Homo sapiens: one gene and its partners. The protein of the gene in region 3 interacts with the protein of the main gene of each other region in a pairwise test. Each region holds a gene or a part of one and is shown on either strand. Other genes may lie near its edges.

What was found.
Region 1: the proteins of ANXA7 (region 3) and CSAD interact in a two-hybrid assay, tested with the Homo sapiens proteins (one large-scale study listed by BioGRID and IntAct).
Region 2: the proteins of ANXA7 (region 3) and CPNE6 interact in a two-hybrid assay, tested with the Homo sapiens proteins (one large-scale study listed by BioGRID and IntAct).
Region 4: the proteins of ANXA7 (region 3) and ZNF135 interact in a two-hybrid assay, tested with the Homo sapiens proteins (one large-scale study listed by BioGRID and IntAct).
Region 5: the proteins of ANXA7 (region 3) and GBP2 interact in a two-hybrid assay, tested with the Homo sapiens proteins (one large-scale study listed by BioGRID and IntAct).
Region 6: the proteins of ANXA7 (region 3) and NMT2 interact in a two-hybrid assay, tested with the Homo sapiens proteins (one large-scale study listed by BioGRID and IntAct).
Region 7: the proteins of ANXA7 (region 3) and WDR73 interact in a two-hybrid assay, tested with the Homo sapiens proteins (one large-scale study listed by BioGRID and IntAct).

The regions. Positions count from the first base shown.
Region 1 is NC_000012.12:53,170,926-53,174,425, forward strand, and holds part of CSAD (cysteine sulfinic acid decarboxylase), read right to left. Parts: intron 2,846-3,500; coding exon of another isoform or gene 2,803-2,845; intron 2,552-2,802; coding exon of another isoform or gene 2,546-2,551; coding exon 2,420-2,545; intron 1,724-2,419; coding exon 1,597-1,723; intron 1,512-1,596; coding exon 1,421-1,511; intron 1,064-1,420; coding exon 957-1,063; intron 950-956; exon of another isoform or gene 517-949; coding exon 401-516; coding exon of another isoform or gene 252-400; intron 1-251. UniProt on the Homo sapiens protein: Catalyzes the decarboxylation of L-aspartate, 3-sulfino-L-alanine (cysteine sulfinic acid), and L-cysteate to beta-alanine, hypotaurine and taurine, respectively. The preferred substrate is 3-sulfino-L-alanine.
Region 2 is NC_000014.9:24,070,398-24,074,441, reverse strand, and holds the start of CPNE6 (copine-6), read right to left. Parts: upstream 2,801-4,044; intron 1,510-2,800; coding exon of another isoform or gene 1,506-1,509; coding exon 1,338-1,505; intron 944-1,337; coding exon 764-943; intron 392-763; coding exon 317-391; intron 152-316; coding exon 77-151; intron 1-76. UniProt on the Homo sapiens protein: Calcium-dependent phospholipid-binding protein that plays a role in calcium-mediated intracellular processes. Binds phospholipid membranes in a calcium-dependent manner. Plays a role in dendrite formation by melanocytes.
Region 3 is NC_000010.11:73,404,059-73,407,558, forward strand, and holds part of ANXA7 (annexin A7), read right to left. Parts: intron 1-3,500. UniProt on the Homo sapiens protein: Calcium/phospholipid-binding protein which promotes membrane fusion and is involved in exocytosis.
Region 4 is NC_000019.10:58,065,782-58,069,281, reverse strand, and holds part of ZNF135 (zinc finger protein 135), read right to left. Parts: intron 2,578-3,500; coding exon of another isoform or gene 2,542-2,577; coding exon 821-2,541; 3' UTR 1-820. UniProt on the Homo sapiens protein: Plays a role in the regulation of cell morphology and cytoskeletal organization. May be involved in transcriptional regulation.
Region 5 is NC_000001.11:89,119,615-89,123,114, forward strand, and holds part of GBP2 (guanylate-binding protein 2), read right to left. Parts: exon of another isoform or gene 2,370-3,500; 5' UTR 2,353-2,369; coding exon 2,163-2,352; exon of another isoform or gene 1,657-2,162; coding exon 1,529-1,656; exon of another isoform or gene 675-1,528; coding exon 565-674; exon of another isoform or gene 1-564.
Region 6 is NC_000010.11:15,162,194-15,165,693, forward strand, and holds part of NMT2 (glycylpeptide N-tetradecanoyltransferase 2), read right to left. Parts: intron 1-3,500.
Region 7 is NC_000015.10:84,638,785-84,641,534, forward strand, and holds the end of WDR73 (integrator complex assembly factor WDR73), read right to left. Parts: 3' UTR 501-2,750; downstream 1-500. UniProt on the Homo sapiens protein: Component of a multiprotein complex required for the assembly of the RNA endonuclease module of the integrator complex. Associates with INTS9 and INTS11 in the cytoplasm, stabilizing the INTS9-INTS11 heterodimer and blocking the active site of INTS11.

The DNA of each region.
Region 1 (3,500 bases), on a different chromosome or scaffold from region 3:
TCCCAGGGTGGTATCAAACTCCTGAGCTCAGGCAATCCACCCACCTCAGCCTCTCAAAGTGCTGGGATTACAGGCGTGAGTCACCGTGCCCGGCCAGATTCTGCATTTCTAACAAGCCCCAGGTCATACCAATGCTGCTGGTCCACAGACCACACTCTTGAGTAGGAAGAGTATGGACTGTGTCCACTGCACTCACGGCCCCTCCTCTGCCCCCAAACAGAAGGCAATGTGAACAGGAGCAGTTACTTGACCTCCTTGATTGGAAGGAAGCACATCCGCCTGGGGGCAGGCTGGCCTTGGAGGATGTAGGGAGGGCAGGGAGAAGACCTGGAAGGTCTCTACTTAGCTGGCTGGAGATTAGAATCAGGAGCCCAGGGTTGGGCCTGTGCCTCTTCCCCACCTCCTTCGATGTGAATAGGGCCAGGGGCGGCAGTGTGCGGAGGCCCCTCTGCTTGCAATCCGGGTAGCGCTGATAGCGGGCCAGATTTACAGCATACATGTTGGAGATGGAGCCACCTGTCACAGGGAGGGGGCGGTGGCAAGAGGAAGGAGCAGTGGGTCAAGACTGGAGCTTGCCTCCCTTCCCTTTCTACCAGAAGAGCTCATCAAAGAAGCAGGTATGACTGGCTCCCAGGCCACAATTCTCAGGATCATACCATCCCAGAATGGATCCAGGATCAGCAGATCCTCTTGACCACACCTCTCCACATCTGGGGCTGCCCCCAAGAGACAGCCCCCGTCCGGAGATAGCAGGAACTAGACCACTGACCCCAGGGAATGGTGACAAACATGAGCATGAAGGGACCAGGCAGCCGCCTCCCTGGCCTGGCCTGGGTCCAGCTGGAGAGGAATCAAAGAGGAATCATCCCTCCCTGCCAGACACTAGAGCAAGAGAACGGTGGGGGAGGAGGAACTCATAAAAAGGGCAAAGAAAGGTCCTCCTCCTTCTCACAAACCAGGGCAGAAGATTCCGTCCCCAGAGCTCCAGCCCACCAGGGCCCGCAGTTTCCTCAGCACCTCCTCTTCCATGAGCACAAACACGGGGGCGATTTCATATGTGTACCTGCCAGGAGAGAGAACGACGAGAAAGGAGAGATGGGGAGGGACTGCCCAGACAGGCCCTTAAACTGCACAGGAGTCACAAAAAGGAGGCAGTGAAGAGTGAGCAAAGCAACAGTCCAAGGAGAAGAACGAGTTGGTGACAGAACCAGGGAAGCAAGAAAGAGAAAACAGGGGTCAGGAGGCCTGAGAAAGTTTGGAGAAAGTGGGTCCAAAGGATATGAGGAAAAACTCTCTGCCGACAGGGATTCCCAGAAGCAGTAGAGAGAGGGCAGAACCATTCTCCTCCCCTACCCCTCAGGCACCTCTCTAGCAAACCTAAATCCTTTGTGGGATGGTAGAGGGGCCTTGGGATGCTCACTGGCTGGTGTTGAGGCTCTCAGTGATAATGCGCCCGGCCAGAGCATGGGGATCCAACCCAGAGAAGAGCTGGTTGAAGAACCGAGGGTGACCTGGAGAAGGAGAGTAAGCCAGGGAGCTCAGAGTAGAGCTCAGGGCAAACTCCCAAGTCTCCTCCTCACAGAAGCCAGGGCCCACCAGTCTTGACACTGTAGCGAATCACAGCCCGACACCGCTCCAGGATCTGCTTCTGTGACTCGCCCTGGCTCCGCAGCTCCAAATCCAGCAGCTGCTTCAGCTCCTCAGGCTCCTTCCACTCACAGACCTAGGAAGAGAGCCGGGGATGCTGGGGGCCTGGGATGCCTGTGGACTGGCTGTCAAACCACACCTCCACAGACACGAGACACGGCCAACCTGCACTAAAAACAACTTCGGGATATTTCCAAAGCAAAACTCTGAAAATGAACAAGAGTAGTGAACACAGTAAGACCCAGAATGTAAATCCCTGAGGTACCCAGGGGGGCAGGGATGAATTCTGGGGAGAAATCTTATCAAAGGAGGAAAGTTCTGAGCCAGATTTGGAAAGAGAAAGAGAAGGCTTGGGCCAGGCGTGGTAGCTCACGCCTGTAACCTCAGCACTTTGGGAGGCCGAGGCAGGCAGATTACCTGAGGTCAGGAGTTCGAGAGCAGCCTGGCTAACATGGTGAAACCCCGTCTCTACTAAAAATACAAAAATTAGCCGGGCGTGGTGGCACATGCCTGTAATCCCAGCTACTCGGGAGGCTGAGGCAGGAGAGCTGCTTGAGCCCGGGAGACGGAGGTTGCAGTGAGCCAAGATTGTGCCACTGCACTCCAGCCTGGCCGATAGAGCGAGACTCTGTCAAGAAAGAAAGGAAGAAAGGAAAAAAGGAAGGAAGAAAGAAGGAAGGAAGGGGGGGGGAGAAAGAAAAGAAAGGAAAAAAGAAAAGAGAAAAGAAAAGAAAGAAAGCTTGATGGGAAGGAGGAGGAAGAAAGGACTCACCTTCTGGGAGACACTGGTTCCTTTCTGAATGGCCTCATCCACAACAACCCCAAACACGGCCCGGAGCAAGGCTTCCACAGCCACTGGGTCCCCAGCAAGGGAGGGGAGTGCTTCTGAGTCAGCCATCAGGATCTGTGGCAGAGCAGAGTCATTCCCTACTCAGCCTGTCAACCCTTCCCGGACCTACCCAGCAGGAGCCTCCTCTCCCAAACGGGCCTGAGGCCCAAACCCTGCAGCTCAGTCTCGGCCTCCAGTGCACAGACAAGGGCAAGTGAGAGTGCCCAGGGAGAAAACCAGTGGGAACAGGTGGGAGAGAAAAGGCAGTCAGTGCTGAGCAAGTGGACTCTAGTGGCCATTTCCACCTAAGGCAGAGACAAGCTTACCTCTCTGCTCAGGAGAGCCGGAGGCAGGGTGCACAGGTAGCTCCTCAGGACAGCAGGACCAAGATGGCAGAGGAAGTGGGGTGAAAAGTGTACAATTAAGTGTTTTTTTCATAAATTCACAAAGTTGTTGCAACCATCATCACTATCTAACGCCAGAACATTTTCATCACCCAAAAAAAAACCTCAGTAGCAGTCATTTCCCATTCTCCCCTTCCCCGACCCCTGGCAACTACTAATCTACTTTGTTTCTGTAGATTTGTCTAGTCTGGCCATTTCATGTAAAACGGGTCATACAGGCCAGGCGCAGTGGGTCACGCCTGTAATCCCAGCACTTTGGGAGGCCGAGGCGGGCGGATCACGAGGTCAGGAGATCGAGACCATCCTGGCTAACACGGTGAAACCCCGTCTCTACTAAAAATACAAAAAATTAGCCGGGTGTGGTGGCGGGCCCCTGTAGTCCCAGCTAGCTACTCTGGAGGCTGAGGCAGGAGAATGGCGTGAACCCGGGAGGCAGAGCTTGCAGTGAGCAGAGATCGCGCCACTGCACCCCAGCCTAGGCGACAGAGCGAGACTCCATCTCAAAAAAAAAAAAAAGAAAAAAAGAAAATACTGAAAAAGAAGGAAAAAGACTTCAAAATATTCATTTGTGGCTATTTCTGGGTGTTGTTATGGATGATTTTTAAGTTTATTATTTATAC
Region 2 (4,044 bases), on a different chromosome or scaffold from region 3:
GGCTCCTGGGATCTGTCTTGAGTGGGAGGCCTAGGAGTGACAGGGGAGTTGGGGGCCTGGACTCTGGGGTTCCAACCTTGTTGTCCAGCTTGTAGGCTCTGAAGGTGAGTTGCACATAGTCGTTTGTGCCTGATACCTCCTCGGCCACGATCTGCAAGGGGGATACAAGTGGCAGGACTCCCCTAACCTTACCACAAGGGCCACCCCATCCCCTTTCCCTTAGGTGGGGGTGGTCCTGGGCATGATGTCACCATAGGTGTCCATGCAGGGGCATTGAATACCTGGACCAAGGGTGAGTACAGGTGATCTTGCCTACCGTGATGGTGGACTTGCCCGCAGTCTTCCCATTCTTCAGCAATAATGGCTTAGTGACCTTGGTTTGTGACACAATCTGGGGATGGAGGTGGAGGGAGACCCAGCTGTGACATCCCCATCTGCCTTGGCCACGTACAAGGGATGGAATAATAAATGCTCTGAGTGTCTGCAAGGGTTGGCACTTTGAGTTGGGCTAGGGTTGGGCTCAATTTTTACAATAGTCTGAAGAGGGAAGCACTCTGACCACTCCTCCATTTTTTAGATAGGAAAACTAAGACTCAGAGAGGTTAAGTATCTTTCCTGAGGCTGCACAGCTAGTGAATGGCAGAGATGGGAGCCAAGGCTGGGTTGAACTAGCTCTAGAGCTCATGTTTTCTCTCTTTTTGGCTTCCAGAGGCAAAGCTGATGGAGGTAGGGTAGGGTAGCCGGGGAGGCCGGGAATGCAGACCTGGCCCAAGGTGCACTCCGTAGAGCCGAGGAAGGTATCATTTCGGGGGCTGGTGGCTCCGTCCTCGGCATCGAACACGTGGAACTGCAGGGGCTGCTTCTCCTCAAAAAAATACTCAAGGGCCAGCACCCGGGAGAAGACAGGGCTGGAACAGGAGCGAAGCACCTCTGTGCGCTCTACCTGTGGTAGTGGTTGAAGGGAGGCGAGGGCTGTCTGGGAACCGAGGATACTTTTCCCTGTCCTGGACTGCCCTAGTCATGCCAGCTCTTCTTGGGCCCCCACGTCCCCAGCAACCAGCTCTTCTCTTCCTAAGCTGATCCCTGAGCTTGGGGTGCTGCCTGCCCACTGGACTCTCAGTCCTCCGGGCTATCATGAGGCCTTTGGGAGCAACCCCACTGCCTCTGGGTCAATCTCAGGACCCTCTGGGACACCATCTCCAGGGTACCCAAGCGGCCTCGAGAAGGCGCCGCAGAGTCCACACATTTCCCTGCAAGGCTTTCACTGCTCCCACCCAGCCTCCCTCTTTCCCAAGCTTAACCCAGGTTAGTTAAGGAGAAACCTGAGCTGCTCTCACCTCCACCCACTGCTCATCAGAGTAGAGCTTGAGCAGCACGCAGGGGTGGGGTTTGGTGAGTGTGTCCCGGTCCAGGAGGCCATGGCAGGACACCCGCAGCTCCACCCGAGAGGCCCCCAGCGTCATGGTTGGGGGCTCAGGCACCCATCCCATCTCAGGGTCCGACATGTCACTGTGGGGACAGAGCAGGTGGCCTGGACTCTGGAAAGGGAACACCTGCCAGCAGAGGGGTCTATCCTCTAGGGTCCCTGGGCCCCACCCCTTAACCTCCTTCCCTAGACCCTGGGGCCTCACGGACCTCCTGCTTCCTCAGCTTCACCAGAGTTCTGAGCAGGGGAGGGCAGAGGACCTGAGCCTCCCACTCCTGCTCAGAAGCCCTGTGCTGCTGGCCTAGGTATGCGTGGATGGGGCTGGAGAGGGCTGAAGGATTGGGGTGGGGATGTTCCTGGCAGTCTTGGCTCCTAGGCCATCGATTGATCTACACTTTCTGCCGCCTCAGCACCTTCTGCTATTTCCCGACTGGTGTTGTGCCAGCGCTGCACTCAGTCTTGGCACGAGGGAGCTAAACTAGGGCAAGGGGGTGGGGCAGGGGGTGGAGAGGCCTCTGGAGTTCTGAAGAGGATGGGTCTCAGAAGTGGAGTCTGCAGTGGGCAGGAGACAGGTTGGAAAGTCCCCTGCTGGGCTATCCCTATCCACTCCCTACCCCCATTCCCCTTCTGGCTAGCTGATGGAAAAGGAGTGGTGGTGGGCTGGGAGGCAGGACCAGGGCTCTGCTGAAAGCTCCTTCAGGCTCCTGGCAGGAGCTCTAACTGTGACAAGCCTCACATCCCTCCCCACCTCCCCTGTTTTCACACTTCTTGGCAGCACTGGCACCGTCTCTTAGCGACAGGATTTTTGGGGAGTCGTGGCTCCCTCCATGCTGCCCGTGGGATGCACGCATGCCACCTTCCCCCAGCAGTGGTACCAAGCCTCGGGCTGAAGCAGGCAGGGGTATGCCGGCCAGAGTTCATGGCCGGTCAGTCCATCTATCTGTGTCTGTACAGATCTCAGGGTGAGGCTGTCTGATCCCATGTCATGCTTCCCCGAGTGAGTGTGCATTGGTGTGTCTGAGTGCCCCACCCTCCGTGTCTGTCCCCCCATGTCGTGTGTCCGTTTCCAGGAGGGTGTGACAGTTCCTGTACCTCCCTCAGAAGTGGGACCTTTCTCTGGCTGGGTATCTACCTCCCCACAGTGTGTGCCTTTCTGGATATGTGAGGGAGGGTCTGGGCTGGGGGAGGGGGGTCTCTGCCTTCCAGCCACAAGTCTCCCAGTTCTTGGGGGTCCCCGAGATAGGCAGGGGCTTGTGGTGGTGAAGGGATTGGGCAGGGCTGGGATCTCTCTGCGGGCTCCAGGAGATGTTGTTATGGAGACTGGGCCAAGCTGGGCTGGGCTGGGGCTGGGCTGGGGAGGAAGGGTGGGCTCACCTGGGCTCTCGGTCGGGGGCTCCTCTCTCCGGCTCTCTGGCCCTGGCCCTGACTCCCTTGCTGCTCCAGCCGCTGGCGCCGGCTCCAGCTCCGGCTCTGCTGCTATTTATGGGGCCTGGATGGGGAGGGGTGGGGGGGGGCGCAGCACCAGCTCCCCCCGCGTGGATGGATTGGGAGGGAGAAGAGGGAAGGGGCAGGGCCACAGCCTGGGAGGGAGCCACAGAACCGGGGGAGGAGGGCAGGCTGGGGGTGGCTTAGAGGCAGGACCCCCACAGACACAGTGACACACATCTTCCCCTTCACACTACACCCACACCCAGAATCGCAGAGATGCGCACATTGCAGTGGCATGCACATACACATTCAAACAGAGAAATGATGGCGACACATGCACCCACGACTCACAGGCTCACACATATCTTGACACACACAGGCGCCAGTACATAAACTCACTGTGACACCACGACAGTTACAGCCCCCGGCGGATACACATTGGGAAACATACCCCTTCTCACATCACTTTCAACATTGTTACACTAGCTAAGGATATCTGCAGTCACATATACAGGAACACTGGGCTGTCCTTGTCACACATGTACTCACTCAAACTAACCCGGAATACAGCAGGATGTGATCTTCCCGTGCTCCTTAAAAGCCATCACATACCTTGCTGAACGTCATAGCTTTGAGAATGATGTCCAGTTCCCTAGCCACCATTTTATAAGGAGACACAGGAAATGGACATAATTGCTTAAGGACACCCAACCTCATATCCTGGTCACATGAGGGCATCTGCTGAAGGACTGACTCCCAAGGCTTCTTCCCGGTGCCACAATGTACCCAACACCCCCCAAGATTCAACCCATATGGCCTTACCCTTGTGGGAGGGGCTGTGCCATGCACAGATCTTAAGGAAACAAAACAAGTAATTCCTGGTGAAATCAGTAAGTAAGGGAAGTAAGCAGTTGCCTGGGGAGCTGCAAACCACACATGAAGACATTTGGGCACATTGTGGTCTGCGATGAGTACGCAAGAGCATTTACCTTCGCCCTCCATCCCCTTAAGCTGCTCATGTATTAATATAGCAGCCATTTATTGAGCATCTCCTGGGTGTCAGGCACTGTGCCAGGTGCTGGGGCTACACAGGTGATTAAGACACAGCCTCTGCCCCTGGGGGAGGCAGATGTATATGGAACAGAAAGACAGGCAGACAGAGAGAGGATAAGCCAATACGCATACGCAAT
Region 3 (3,500 bases):
ATGAAGTTTGGCTTTTATTAATTCATTATAACACTTTCAGTACATTTACTTTCTCAATTTTATTAGACTTAGAATAATTTTAAAATTAGAATGCTTTCTGATGGAAAAAGAAAGTAGGGTGGTAGAGTGTGGTTAGTCTGAGATTAAGGAGGCATTCATATATTATCTATTCTGTGATAATAATGGTGATCAAAAGTTGATAGTCTTCTGATCAGCAAACATAACACTGGAAATATCTTTTAAAAACTGCAGTCTGTACCAGAAAGTTTGAAAGTTATGTTCTTCAAAAGGTGCTCATTTCCATTTGGAAAAGTAAACAATAACCTGCACATCAAGTGATGTTAAGACATTACTATTTTTTTGGTGTGATAATGGTACTATGATTTTCATCAAGTATTCTGATCTTTTAGAGATACACATTAAGTATTTACAAACAAAACGATACGATGTCAGGGATTATGCCAAAATAATATGCAGGAATATTCTATATAATATAGTGCAGGAATTTAGACATAATAAGCAGTCAGGAGTTGATAACTGCTCACGCTGGGTGATGAGTACATGGGGATTCATTACACTCTCCTGTCCATTGTTGAAAAGATGGCTCATGTAAAATAAATGGAGCTAGTGTGGATAAAGACAAATATCCCTATATATATATATATATATATCTTTTGCATTTGAAGAAAACACTATTAACCTAAAGCAAATGTAAATAAACAGAGAAAAAAACAAACATTCAAAAGAATACCCTCTTAGCCTGATCAAATCTAAAACACGGCCAGGCGCAGTAGTTCACGCCTGTAATCTGAGCACTTTGGAAGCCAACGCAGGTGGATCACTTGAGGTCAGAGACCAGCCTGACCAACATGGTGAAACCCTGTCTCTATTAAAAATACAAAAATTAGGGCCGGGCGCGGTGGCTCACGCCTGTAATCCCAACACTTTGGGAGGCTGAGGAGATCACAAGGTCAGGACATTGAGGCCATCCACGCTAACACAATGAAACCCCATCTCTATAAAAAATCCAAAAAATTAGCCGGGTGTGGTGGCATGTGCCTGTAGTCCCAGCTACTTGGAAGGCTGAGGCAGGAGAACCCCTTGAACCCAGGAGGTGGAGGTTGCAGTGAGCCAAGATTGCACCACTGCACTCCAGCCTGGGCCACAGAGCAATACTGTCTCAAAAAAAAAAAAAAAAGGCTGGGTGCAGTGGCCCAGGCCTGTAATACACCCAGCACTTTGGGAGGCTGAGGTGGGCGGATCAACTGAGGTCAGGAGTTCGAGACCAGCCTGGCCAACATGGTGAAACCCTGTCTCTACTAAAAATACAAAAATTAGCCAGGCGTGGTGGCATGTGCCTGTAAGCCCAGCTACTCAGGAGGCTGAGGCAGAATTGCTTGAACCCAGGAGGCAGAGGTTGCAGTGAGCCAAGATCACACCACTGCACTCCAGCCTGGGTGATAGGGCAAAACTCCATTTCAACAACAACAAAAAAATCTAAAATACTATTAGTGATCAGATATAATATACCTGGCAAATACATCTATATAAAGTCAGTAATCACTTTTTTGGCATCTACAAGAAAACATTGCTACAAGTGGAGAGTGAATGATCAAAGGTTTAAACCAGGCTTTTAAAGGTGCTAGACACAGATAGGCAAGAAAGTAGAACAATGTTATTTGCAAGGCAAAAGGTGAGACGTAACTGTGAGACGGATGATCACCAAAATAGACTAAGGAGCAGATTAAGACAGAAGTCAATCAGGAGGCTTTCTGTATGTGTATAATAAAATACTCGTCATTCTCCACCACACCACTCTTAACATCCTTTATCTGTCAATAGCACCACTACTTAAATTACCTAATACTCCAGTATAGTAAGAAACCCAGTATTTTTCTCTTCTTTTTTTTTTTTGAGACAGAGTTTCGCTCTTGTCACCCCAGCTGGAGTGCAGTGGTGCAATCTCGGCTCACTGCAGCTTCCACCTCCTGGGTTCAAGCAATTCTCCTGCCTCAGCCTCCTGAGTAACTGGGATTACAGGCGCCCACCACCACACCCGGCTAATTTATTGTATTTTAGTAGAGACAGGGTTTCGTCATGTTGGCCAGGCTGGTCTCGAACTCCTGACCTCAGGTGATCTGGCCGCCTCGGCCTCCCAAGGTGCTGGGATCGCAGGCATGAGCCACTGCGCCCGGCCAAAACCAGTGTTTTTCTATCCATCCTTTGAAATGCCTCTTCTGTAATTTCTGTTCTCATGGTCATATACTTAGACCAAGTTTCATCACTTGATGCCTGTCTTACTAAAACTCCTCCTCTGTTTATATTCTTGCTTATACTCTGTCACCCTCCCAATTTTCTCAGACACTGTCACTAGCTAAACTTTCCTAAAATGCTGCTCTTTCAGCAAATTGCTCTTCAGCTCAAAAATCATCAATGACTACTGCTGGAGTATCAAATGAAAATTAATTGGCCTGATATACAGGTCTCCTTAGTACTGGCTCCAATTATTATTATTATACATATATTTTTGAGATGGTTTCTTGCTCTATCGCCCAGGCTGGAGTGCAGTAGTGTGACATCAGCTCACTGTAGCCTCGAATTCCTGGGCTCAGATGATCCTCTCATCTCAGTCTCCTGAAGAGCTAAGACTACAGGTGCACACAACCATACCTGGCTAATTTTTTGTATTTTTAGTAAAGACGGGGTTTCGCCATGCTGCCCAGGCTGGTCTTGAACTCCTGGGTTCAAGAGATCCACCCGCCTCAGCCTCCCAAAGTGCTAGGATTACAGGCATGAGCCACCACACCCACCCTCTATTTATCTATTTAACTCATTTCTTACCAACACCTAACCCTCAACGTGAAATCTCTATCACTTGAACCATTCCCAGCATTCCTTTGCTTAAGCCATTCTTATCATTAACTGACTTGGCCCTCAAGCCTGGGCTTACTCACCCCTCCTATCTAGCTCAAGTCTCCTCTCTTCCTTCTTTGAACAACGTAGTTGACTAAAATAGTGTTTCTCAATGTTTTCTTTTTGAGACAGTCTTGCTCTGTTGCTCAGGCTGGAATGCAGTGGCACAATCTCGGGTCACTGCAGCCTCCACCTCCTGGGTTCAAGCGATTCTCCTCCTTTAGCATTCCAAGTAGCTGAGACTACAGGTGCGCACTACCACACCTGCTTAATTTTTGCATTTTTAATGGAGACGGAGTTTCACCATGTTGGCCAGGCTGGTCACAAACTCCTGACCCCAAGTGATCTGCCTGCCTCAGCCTCCCAAAGTGCTGGGATTACAGGCGTGAGCCACTGTACCTGGCCTCAAACTTTAATGTGTATATGAATCCCTAGGGATCGTGTTAAAATAGAGATTTTAATTCAGTAGCTCCAGGATGGGGCCTGAGATTCTGCATTTCTAAAGCTTTCAGGTGATATGGATTCTGCAGGTCTGTGATTCACACTCTGATACCAGAATACTTTGGGATTTCTGGATCTACACCTAA
Region 4 (3,500 bases), on a different chromosome or scaffold from region 3:
CAGCAAAAGCCATCTCAGAATCAGTGAGACTCTACGGAAGCAGCTTTACATTTTGAGTCTTCCCATACAAAGCTTTTCAATCTCATTGCATATAAAGATTAATTGCAAAAATAATGCAGGGATAACTAAAAACCTGTTTATAGTACACTGATACTTTGTCATATGTAATTCCAATCTGTGACTGGCTGCCATGTACCCTGATCAAACAATATACACACAGACAAGACAGCTGTTTACTGAGACAGTCAGTATCCACAGTGATTCCATAAAGATGCCACTCTCATTTCTGGAACACTCTGCCATACTGTCATTTGGGAATGAATATCAGAGTCAACCTGCACCATTCATAAGCACTTTCCCCCCCAAAAATGTGATGTGCAATAATGGCAAATTCTGACTTCATTTGGTTCTCGTATATATGAAAGGCATTTGTTGGGTTTCTCACCAATTTGAACATCTCTGGTTTGGAATACGGTGAATCCTTGGACAAAAGCGTTCCCTGGATCCACTACATTTGTTCCATTTCTTTTTTGTAGGTTCTATAACATAGCACTAATGGGCGTTCAAGGCTGAAGGTCCTGAGTGTTGATTATCTCCACGTTTCCCTACTATTTGGATGCAGAGATGGATGACCTAGAGCTTGGTGGTCCCATGGTCATTTCCCATCAGTGTGAACTCTCTGAGGGTGTCTGAGGGGAGTGCTGTGTGAAAAGGCTTGTGTATGAATGTACGTTTCTCATGTGTATGATTGGGTCAAATCTAGAAAGGGATGAGCTATGGCTTAAGGTCTTCCTATGTCCCCAGCACATGTGGAGTGGGTTTATCCAGTGTGAGTTCTCTGGTGCTTGGTAAGGGAGGAGCTGTGGGTAAAGGCCTTTCCACAGTCCCTGCATGCATATGGCTTCTCTCCTGTGTGGATCCTCCGGTGCTGAGTGAGGTGGGTGCTCTGCCTAAAGGACTTTCCGCAATCGTGACACTCATAGGGCTTTTCCCCAGTGTGCGTCCTTTCGTGCTGGCTGAGCGAGGAGCTGTGGCTGAAGGATTTCCCACACTCATTGCACCCATACGGCTTTTCCTTGGTGTGAATCCTCTGGTGTTCGATGAGAAGGGAGCTCTGGCTGAAGGCTCTGCCACACTGGTTACATTCATAGGGTTTCTCTCCTGTGTGGATCCTCTGATGCTGAATGAGGGGAGCAAGCTGGCTGAAGGCTCTGCCACACTGGTTGCATTCGTAGGGCTTCTCCCCAGTGTGGATTCGCTGATGTTTGGTGAGGGACGAGCTGTGACTGAATGCCTTGCCGCAGTCATTGCATTCATAGGGCTTCTCCCCTGTGTGGATTCGCTGGTGTTGGGTGAGGTGTGTGCTCTGCCGGAAGGCCTTCCCACACTGACTGCACTCATAGGGCTTCTCTCCTGTGTGTGTCCGCTCATGCTGGCTGAGTGAGGAGCTGTGGCTGAAGGTTTTCCCACACTCGTTGCATCCATAGGGCTTCTCTCCTGTGTGAATCCTCCGATGCTCGGTCAGGAGTGTGCTCTGACTGAAGGCTTTCCCACACTCACCACACTCATAGGGCTTTTCTCCTGTGTGGGTCCTCTGGTGCTGAATCAGTGGTGTGATCTGGGTGAAGGCTTTTCCACACTCATGGCACTCGTAGGGCTTCTCCCCTGTGTGGATTCGCTGGTGTTTGGTCAAGGATGAGCTGTGGCTGAAGGCCTTGCCACACTCACCACACTGATAGGGTTTCTCCCCAGTGTGGATTCGCAGATGCTGGGTGAGGTGGATGCTTTGCCGGAAGGCTTTCCCACACTCACTGCACTCGTAGGGCTTCTCGCCTGTGTGAGTTCGCTCGTGCTGGCTGAAGGAGGACCTAAAACTGAAGGATTTCCCACATTCGCTGCATTCATAGGGCTTCTCACCTGTGTGAGTTCTCTGGTGCTGGATCAGTGGGGCAATTTGGTTGAAGGTCCTCCCACACTGAGTGCATTTATAGGGTTTCTCCCCAGTATGGATTCTCTGGTGTTTGGTAAGTGCCGAGCTGTTCCGGAAGCCTTTTAAGCATTCGTGACATTCGTAAGGTCTCTCTCCTGTGTGCGTCCGGTGGTGTTCGATAAGTGCTGAGCTGTGACTAAAGGCCTTTCCGCATTCCTGACATTTGTAGGGTTTCTCTTTTACACAGGTTTTCTGTAAAACATTTAGGTCTGGCTTCTCCCTTTTTCCACGTGTTCCCCATGTGTGGGGGCTTTGTCTTTCAGGAGTCATTGGTTGATGTGGGAGATCAGGGTTCAGACTTATGTTTTCCCCAAACCCATTCCTCTGCCACTGCTCCAGAACAGGCGTCTTCACAGGCGTGAAGGCCACCGGCACTGCCAGGCTCTCTAGACTCTCACAACTCCATTCCCAGTGGCCCTCAGTGTCCTCACCCCTGCAGTACCACAGACCATCCCACAGGAATCTTTCTACCAAGATGACACTGTTGGATATTTCTTCAGAGATGCCTTGCTTTAGAACTGACAGTTTGACTTTGGGTCTAGTTTCCAAGTCTGAAAGAAGCAAAAACTGGAAATGTCCCTTAATCTCTGTTCCACGGCAAAAGAGTTTGTGGTGAGATGGGAAGAGGAAGGATAAAACTAATTATTTTGAAACGTTCAAGGTTCAAGTGGCTTTGACCATTTAAAAATATAGTTTTGCAAACCAGGAAAGGAAGAGAGGGAAACACAGAATAAGGAAGAGGAAAATAAGGAATAAGGAAAGGAAGAGGAAAGAACAGAATAAGGAAAGGAAGAGGAGAGGGAGGAAAAAACAGTTGGCACAAGGAGTATGAATGGAGTCTGTGAGGGGAGCACAGAGGAGGATGCAGAGCGGATGCCCAGGAGAGAGCACTCAGACACACAGAGGCACTGGACTTGGAAGGAGCAGTGTGGCACCCAGGCTCCAGCTACAGTGGCCTCCACAATGCCAGGTGGCAACAGAGAAAAACGTGCTGCATGGGGAAAGTTGGCTGATACCCAGCTTCTTCCCGACAGCATATGCTGTTGTGCCACCTCACTCTAGATGTAAAGGAACCTAACTGCTCCCCACAAACAGGAATAGCTGCAATGTACATCACTAAGAGGAAGAAAAATGACCCGTGGCATATTAGAGTGCTTTGGTCTGCCTTATTTTGTCCATTTCACTAACTGGGAACCCCTTGAGGGTAGGGGTTTCCGTCCACCTTGCTTACCACTGTATCTATAGCCCACAGCAAGAGCTCAATATACATGCTTAATGAATGAACAAATGCATTCCCTCCTCCTCCTTCATGGCAGGACTCTCTTTTTGCCCTGGTACCCAGCCCTCTCTGCACAGCCATGACCTGGGTGTGTGCTGCCCCTACCCTGACCCCACAGTGGCCTAGAGGTGTGATGTGGGCACCTTCCCCATATTGTTATGTTTCAGTGAAAAGTTCAATTAAAAAAAAAAAAGTTAAGCCAGAGTGAATGGCAGAATAGTGGCTTCCCAA
Region 5 (3,500 bases), on a different chromosome or scaffold from region 3:
AATAGTGGTGTAGTCTGAGGGCATATATATTAAAGAAGATTCTCTTTTTAATGGTAAAGGAATGAGAAAGTGTCCAGAACTCTAATATGGAGCAAGGAGGATACCTAACTCATCTCTTACACTTATGATATGCAAGGTATGGGATTAAAAATAGTCATCACATAAGACCACTGGAGAGGTCTGTAGGAGAAATAGTATCTATAGTGTATAGCTAGGTATCATTTAGAAGGCAACACTTAGAGCAGATGATAAGAATATAGAGAGTTGCAGAAGTGAGAACATGAGTTCTAGAGGACATTGAAGGTTTGGACAGGCATAGGAGATTAAGTCAGATAGAGGATATACAGAGTCTTGGGTGGCTGAGTATCTAACGAGACATGTAACTGGGAAGACTTGAAGTTCAGATGGAGATTGAGATAGAATGAGATGTTCAGCATAATGAGATTTATTAAAGAGAGGACTTATGAATTCTTCAGTACCTGTCTGTCTGCCTCTGTACTTGGTGAAAAAATGAAGCTGTTATTTTCTAGGTTTACTGCTGTTCTGGACCACAAAAAAGGATACTGAAGTTGGTCCATGGCCTGCTGGTTGATGGTTCCCATGCTATTGTACACGAAGGTGCTGCTCAGGAGGATGGCCAAGGCAAAGATCCAGGAGTCATTCTCATTGTCACCCTGTAAGTCATTGTAGAAGCCACAAAGAAGAATGACTAGCAGAATGTACAATCAATTCAGATAGCTGAAGACTGACTGAACTCCAACTCTGTCTCTCATTAGTTCTGAAAACTTAGGTAACTCACTTCCTTATGCAGTATTTTTTTCTACCTGTAGAACAAATTTATAATATTTATGATGTATAATTTAAGGTGTTATATATAAATATATGTCAGCAGGAAACACATGAGCACTTGGTAGGAGAAGCTATTTTGATCAGCTACTAAAATTCAAACTGGTACCCTAAACTTAGTTTATGACCCTATTCCATTTCCATGGCACATCATAGTAAGATATTTTTTACACAGTAGTTAAAATAAGCTCCTTTAATAAAAGCTTTCTATGTCTAAGATTTATAACAGTAGTAATATATTATCCTTAATGAGCAAAGATGTTATCATTAGATTTTACACTTTGCTTCTCTTTCTACTGGTGCTGGTGTGGATGTGAACATTTTTACTACCTTTGTGGGATCCCACTGTAAAAAGTCAGACATGTTTGTAAAACGTCTACTGAAGTTTATAAGCACCTTCAGCAGCCTCACCAAAACATTTTACTATAATATGAAAGAGAAATAACTGAAAACATCATTAGCCATTATTTCATAGGTTTACCCATAATTAATCAATTGAACTTATTGTGTACTCTGAATGCTTATACCACACAAATTTTAAGAAATAATATATTAATATAATTAACTAGAGCCCTAAATCAAGGAGTAGGAGTGATTGTGCAAAGATGGTTATCGATCTGACCTGGTTTATGTAGATTTTAATCTACCTAAGTGAAATTTTTAAAATACTTATTTTTTTTACCTTCTCTATATCTCCCAGGCCCTCAGTGTCGAGCAGAACTAGGGTGTGTTCTGGCTTCTTGGGATGAGGCACACACCACATCCAGATTCCCTTGGTGTGAGACTTCACTGTGGAGCCTAGAGAGAAGCCTGTAGAAGGAGAGGATAAAAGGGAAAAGAAATTACTTAGTAGGTGTTTCTGGAAATTGAGATAAAAGTTAACATAATTGAAGTTAAAAGAGATAAAAGAAAATACAACTGGCATAAATCTTAATTACAATCCTGGAAACAGGAAAATTAGATATTTAATACACACTGAAACATTCATATTTTTCTTAAAGTTCATTGAAAGCTTGCTGTCACTACATGAACATTTTAATAAATGTTTTATAAGTCATTATTATAGAAGTTAATTTTCTTTATTAACATTGTGTTCCTTCCAGAAAGGCACATTTATACCCTTAGTATAAAATAAAAGTAAAGTGGGAAGAGTCAGTTGACTGTAATCCTCCAAAGTCAATGTAAAGAGCCCATTAATGGACTGAAAGTTAGCTTTCAACATTCATTCTCATCTCTTTCTATGCTCACATCCCTAAGCTGGATGTTCGCCGTGTGTACGGACAGAAGGGGCTTAGAGCTTTGCTGGTGTCACTCACCGTTTTTCTTCCCAGCCAGCTTGTTCATCAGGTAGGATTTGCCTGTGCGATAGAGGCCCACAATCGCCACCACCACCACAGGCTGCGTAATTGCAGATAGGATCTTCAGAGCTTCTGGATTCACCACCAGCTGCCCTTTAGTGTTATCAATGAGGCTCATTGGGCCCGGCAAGTTGATCTCTGGAGCCATGTCCAGGGTGTTGTTCCCTTGTGTGCAAGGAAAAAGATGAAATGGAAAGCAGTTTTTAGGTAGTTAGCTATGCTGAACTTTACAATATGGGTTAAATTTTTGTTTTCTATGCTTGAACATTTTTTCATATACGTTTTTTAAAGCCTGGTTTCTCTTTAAGGCTGTCTTACAAATTGGGTCACTGGCTTTCTTTAAAAATAACTTTATTTTGAAATACACTTACAGAAAAGATGTACAATGGGTATGGAAAGTTCCCATATATCATTTCCCCTAAAGTTAAAATTTTCCATAACCATAGAACAAGGATTTTAACATTGGTAGAGTGATAACTAATTTACACTCCTTATTCACATTTCACCAGTTTCCCACTAATGTCCTTCTGCTCCATGACCCAATCCAGGATTCCTCATTGCATTTAGTCATTATGTTTCTGTATTTTCCTTGCATCTTTGATAGTTCCTTATTCTTTCCTTGTCTTTCATGTCTTTGACATTTTAGAAGTTGACTGGCTATGATTTTGTAGAATATCCCTCAATTTGGGTTTTTTGATGTTTCCTTATTATTAGATTGAAGTTATACATTTTTTTTTGCAAATGTCACCAAAGTGATGTTCTGCCATTTTCAGTGTCTTGTATTAAGGGATTCATGATGTTGACATGACTTTTTCTGGTGCTGTGACCTTAACTTTGATCACTTGGTTAAGGTGTTCTCTGCCAGGTTTCTCTACCACAAAGTGTTATGTACCATTTTGTCACTAAAAAGTACCATTTGAAGAGACAGTTTGAAGACTATGCAAATAAAGATTCATCATACTTCCATAATTTTTTCAGTCACTATTTTTAGCATCTGTTGATAATTCTTGCTTATAACTTACTGTGATGTTTGACTAAAAGTAATTTTCTATTTTCATTCCTTCTACATTTATTAGAGTTCTAATGTGAGCAAGAACTGCCCTTTCTCCTCTATTTATTTTATTTACTTATTTAATCATTTAGTTGTATCAGTGTAGATCTATAGTAGATCAGTGTAGATTTATCATATGGGTAACACTTTACTATCACTATTTATCTCATTGCTCAACTCGTCCCAGATTAGTTCACTGAGAGCTCCTTCAAGCTGTAGCCCAGGTACTATGGACGTGCTTCCAT
Region 6 (3,500 bases), about 58 Mb from region 3:
GTGAGCTGAGATTGTGCCACTGCACTCCAGCCCAGATGACAGAGTGAGACCTTGTCTCAAAAAAAAAAAAAAAAAAAAAGTGTACAGATAATCCACAGAAGAAAAAAAGAATGAAAACTAGACATATTCTACCAAAGACAGGAAATAAAATACAGAAATTTTTGAGTACCAAGAAAGCTTATAAACAAAATTCAAAGACTGAATATGATCTGAGCTGTCCAGTATGATAGCCACTAGTCACATGGAGCTATTTAAATTTAAATTAATTCAAATAAAATAAAAACATTCAGCTCAGTCACACTTGTCACATGCAAGTGCTCCATGTGTTGATGACTGCCCAACTGGATTACTATCACCCCAGAAAGTTCCAGCACACAACAATAAGAGTCAGCGAAACATACATGGTAACAAATGCACCCAGGTACAGTAAGATCCCAGCGATGTTAAACACACACACATATTAAAAAGTGAGTTCATTAAACTATCAGTGGTGACAGCTCTGGGAAATAAGGTGACCAGGGGCTTTCACTCTACCTTATATACCTTATTGTTTGATATATATATATATTTTATTTATATATATATTTGATTTATATATCTCTATGTATTTGATATTATATATCTGTATTTGATATTTATATATCTCTATATATTTGATATTTATATATCTATATATTTGATATCTTTTGATATTTATATATGTGATATATATAAATATATACATATAAGAGAGAGATATATATATATGTATATTTTTAGACAGAGTCTCATTCTGTTGCCCAGGCTGGAGTACAGTAGTGCGATCACAGCTCTCTGGGCTGAAGCAATTCTCCCATCTCAGCCTCCCAAGTAGCTGGAACTATACGCATGCACCACCATGTCTAGCTCATTTTTTATTTCATCGAGATAGGGTCTTGCTATGTTCCCCAGGTTGATCTTGAATTCTTGGCCTCAAGCGATCCTCCACCTTGGCTTCCCAAAGCACTGGGATGACAGGCATGAGCCACCACACCTGGCCCTATTGTTTGATTTTTGAATAAGCGTATTTTTAAAACGTCATTAACATGTTTTCAAAGAAAACAACAATCAATTTCTTGAACTTGGAGTAGAACTTGGTTCTGTTAAAATAAAGTGATTTTAACTAGTATAGATGTATAACGTACATTTGCACTAACAAACAAAGATGGCAAAGTATGTGTCCTATATTTAGACAACCCTGGAAAAAATTTGTTCTGGGCCAAAGGGTGACATCACCCATTCAGATGCAAGTCTTAGCAGACACTTGATCATTTCAAACAGTAGTTCTTGATTTGAGGAGGTCCCTCAGGCAAAGACTGTCGTTAATCTATTTTTCCATTTAGATTTATACAGTTGATAACAGATCAAATTTCAGAAAGGGCAGCTTTGAGTTATCCCTAAATTTTCCATAAGAAAAACTTATTGCAAGTCATAATGTTTCTGCATTTTCCCACTGATACCACACAGCTGACAAAGGGGAAGTTCCCAACTCAATTTCAACAACAGACATATGAAGTCAGATACAACAACATAGTGCCCAAAGAAGAACTTCCTTTTTTTACCCCCTAAATTGGGGATGGTAGAAGACAGATTATGTTCTTTGTTAAAAGAATTCCAAAGTTTTCATCTTTGTCCAATACCAGATCTTCAATCTTTCTAAGAAAAAGAACTCTTAAAAACGTCTTAGGCCGGGGACGGTGGCTCACGCCTGTAATCCCAGCACTTTGGGAGGCCGAGGCGGGCGGATCACAAGGTCAGGAGATGGAGACCATCCTGGCTAACATGGTGAAACCCCGTCTCTACTAAAAATACAAAAAAATTAGCCAGGCGTGGTGGCGGGCGCCTACTGTAGTCCCAGCTACTCCGGAAGCTGAGGCAAGAGAATGGCGTGAACCTGGGAGGCAGAGCTTGCAGTGAGCCGAGATCGCGCCACTGCACTTCAGCCTGGGGGACAGAGCGAGAATTGGTCTCAAAAAAAAAAAAAAAAAAAAAAAAGGTCTTAACCCTATTTCATGTCTACCCCAGGGACTAATTTAGTCATGTATCTGCCAACAAAAACATACTCACCTATGTTTATTTTGGTTCCTATATAAATCTTCTTAGTAGCTGCTTCCAGTGAATATTGAGGGAAAAGCTCTCTTAACGGAAAGCTATGAGAAACATCTATTTTTCTAGGAAGTATATGCTCTCTGTAAGTCAATGTTGGTTAAGCAAGGGGACAGATTTGGTTTTGTTACCAAAGTTCAACACGAATTTTATTTGACTCTGTCTCCAACAATGGACCATAACATTAGCTCAGTAAGAGATCATGACCAATACCAAATGTATTTCATAACTGGAGAAGCCGGACATCAAAAGGACAGCGAGAAGACAGTGGGTTCTAAATAATTCTTCAACAATTTGGCCTGTCCTCAATGTCCCCAAAGCCCTTCAGAAGAAAGTAACAGAAGGCAAAAACACAGCAAAATGAGGGAAGTATTAAAGATCCTTGAGCATCTTAACCTCAGATCCAACGGTGAAAGCTCCTAGGAAATTCATCCTCCAGGCCGGGCACCATGGCCTGTAATCCCAGCACTTTGGGAGGCCGAGGCCAGGGGATCACCTGAGGTCAGGAGTTCAAGACCAGCCTGACCAACATGGTAAAACCCCATCTCTACTAAAAATACAAAATTAGCCAGGTATGGTGGCACACGCCTGTAATCCCAGCACTTTGGGATGCAGAGGTGGGGATCACCTCAGGTCAGGAGTTTGAGACCAGCCTAACCAACACGGTAAAATCCTGTCTCTATTAAAAATACAAAATTAGCTGGGCGTGGTGATGCACGCCTGTAATCCCAGCTACTTGGGAGGCTGAGGCAGGAGAATTGCTTGAACCCGGGAGGTGGAGGTTGCAGTGCGCCAAGATCGTACTATTGCACTCCAGCCTGGGTGACAAGAGCAAAACTCCATCTCAAAAAAAAAAAAAAAATCATCCTCCAGGTCACCTTTTTGTACCACTGCCACCCATAGCAGAACAGAAATCTTCAGTAATCTGGACTATTTCTAATAATTCATATAGGAAGCTGGACTGAGGTTAATTTTTATCTATGTAGAAAGTCTTTCCAGGCTCCTTCAAGCTCTTTATAAAGACCTACTCCCTAATTCTAATTGCAAATCGTGTGTTAAAGTAAGTTATATAAAGATGTCTTTAGGCAATCCTCTATTAGCCTGGTTCTAATTGCCAAACATTGTTTGAAAATAATAAAATTATACTTGTCTGAATATAGTCTCACTAATTAAAACTGACAATCCCTTCTTCCCCCATGTTTTTTGTAATTCATGAAAGTTTTATAGTGGTTTGCCACTTCCACGCTTGGGTGGACCAAAAAGTTAAAGAGTACATTTAACTCTTTACACTGGCTTACACCTGTAATCCCAGCACTTTGGGAGGCCGAGGCAAGCATATCACCTAAGGTCAGAAGTTCGAGACCAGCCTGGCAAAC
Region 7 (2,750 bases), on a different chromosome or scaffold from region 3:
TGAGTCTCATTCTATCACCCAGGCTGGAGTGGAGTGGTATGATCTTGACTCACTGCAACATCTGCCTCCCGGGTTCAAGTGATTCTCCTGCCTCAGCCTCCTGAGTCGCTGGGATTACAGAGATGTGCCACCACGCCCAGCTAATTTTTGTATTTTTTTTTTTTTTTTTTGGCAGAGATGGGGTTTCACCATGTTGGCCAGGCTGGTCTTGAACTCCTGACCTTAAGTAATCTGCCTGCCTCGGCCTCCCAAAGTGCTGGGATTACAGGCCTGAGCCACCACGGGGCCCCAGTGTGCAGTCTTTTATCCCCTCAGTCTGTACCCAGTGTGTAGTCTTTTATCCCTCACCCCCCTGCTCCCACCCTTTCCCCCTGGGTTGAATATTTCAAATCTATTTCTTCCTTAAATCTTACTCAAAGGAAATCCAATACCATAGTCAGTTTCACCAAGGATGAATTTCTTGACCCAGAAAGGAAAGCTCATTTTAGGGAGATGGTCAGTTTAGGTATGTGTCTGAATTTTATTTAAGATAGATGAACGTGGATATATAGTTATGCATTTGGGCCTGAATTTTTTTTTCTAGTTGTTCTTTTCACTGAGCTTTCCCAAGAATCCCCCCAGAATTAAAAAAAAAAAATTACTATCTCCTCTCCCTGGCATATAAAATGGTTGGGATTAGATTTACCAAACCATTACATCTCCCTTTTGTCTGCCTGCAAACAGATTTTCCAATCCATAGGCCCAAAGTGAACTCCCACGTGGAGTAGGATGAAAACCCACAGCATCTAGATCTTCAAATTCTGGAGAAAAAGAGAGTGTGAAAGACTGCTCAGTGGCTGGGGTGAGAGTCAAGTCTGGCCAGGTGCTAATCTGGAGAAAAGCCAAGACCTGGAGCGAGCTGGAGTGGCAGGCCCTGGAGGATGAGAAGGTGGCAGGAGTGCACTGGGGATACAAAGAAACCAAGATTTTTCTGGGAATTCTCAGAGGCCTGGATCCACGAAAAACTCCGCACCTGCCATCGAAACCACCAGGTGTACCGGATTATGGCTGAGCAGCTGTGAGAACATGGCTTCCTGTGGACCCTGGAGCAATGTTGCTATCGGTTCAAAAACCTCCTGACCGACTACTGCAAAGCCAGGAGCACCTACACACCAGGCACCAGTGTCTTCTATGATGAGATGGATGCCCTGTTGAGTCTTGGGGCACTTTCTAACACCTTTGATGCCTTAGAGGTGGTAGGAGGCCTTCTTTGGGATTGAGAGGATTCCAAAGGGAACCAGGGCATAGCACTAGAAGATGTGGCGGGATGGTAATGAAATAGTGGAGGAGTCTCAAGAGGAATCCTGGAGGCTTGGTCCCCAGGCCTTGAGGTGGAATCCCAGTGGCAACTCTCCCCCACAATGGACCTCAGAGCAGTGGGAGCGACGCAGTCCTGTGGGAAGCATTCAGGCTCAGAATCAGGAGATGTGATTATTGTCCTGGCTCTGTTATGACTAATTTGGGTCTGGAATGGCCTCATCGGGGGAAAAATTGGTGACAACTTTAAGAAATACTGTTTATATCCCGTCCTCAAATATTGCTTGACTCAACCCTCTACTGAACCAGTAGTCCAGGGTGGCTCACAAAGACCACTTTGAGGCTCTTGCTCTGCTCTTTAGCCAAGGAGTCTCCCTTCCTGCCTTCAGTAACAACATTACAGGAAGAGAGGAGAGAAAGGTAGGAGTTAAAGATCCAGTCATTTGTTTCCATCTAAAGTGCCCTATAAGCCGGGCATGGTGGCGCAAGCCTGTAGTCCCAGCTACTCGGGAGGCTGGGGCAGGAGAATCACTTGAGCCCAGGAGTTGGAGGCCGCAGTGAGCTGTGATCATGCCACTGCATTCCAGCCTGGGCGACAGAGTGAGACCCAGACTCAGCTGAAAAATAATAATATTATTAAAAGAATTTAAAATAAAGTGTTCCATAGATGTGAACCCTGCGTAGATTATACACACCAGTCTGCCATTTAAAAGGTTTGTTGTTCTTGGGCAACCTCTTTAAATACCCTTAGCCTCCATTTTCTCATCTGGACAGTGGACATTGTGATGGTTTCTACCTCCCTGGGCTGTTATGAGGATCCTGACACAGTATTAGCACTTGGCAAACGTTAGTTTTCATTATCATCATCATTATAATTATTATGAAAATAGATAAGGGCATTATCCTGTACCCTCAAAGGAGTAAAAGGGGGAAAATGAGTCATTAAACTTTCTCTTCTGGGAACTAGACCTTCTTGAGAGGCACTATCATTCTCATTTCACCTGTCACTTCCAGACATGGGAGCAGAAAGTGAATTTCAGAACTCCATGTCCCCTCCTGCTTTTCTCTGAGCAGGACTTCCAGTTCCCCAGCCAGATGGGGTCACAATGCTGCAGAAAAGTGAAGAGCTTTGGAATGAAGATCTCCCGGACTTCAAGGAGATTCAGAAAACGTCCAGTGCAGGTGGGAAATGAATGGGAGCTAGCATTCCACCAACAAAGTCAGCCCTGGGATTCTAAACTCGGACAAGCCAGCACTGGTTAAGGGCTGAGGGGAACCAGGCACTCAGTGCACCCAGTTTACTATTCTGTGGTGTGGAAAGCACAGGACTTGAGAAGCAGGTGGCACCCAGGAAAGCCTGTTCCCCTAAGTAAGTTTGAACTTTAGTTACTTGAAAAAAGGTATAACTGAATTATGAGTGTTTATGATTTTATCTTTATTTTATTTTTTTTGAG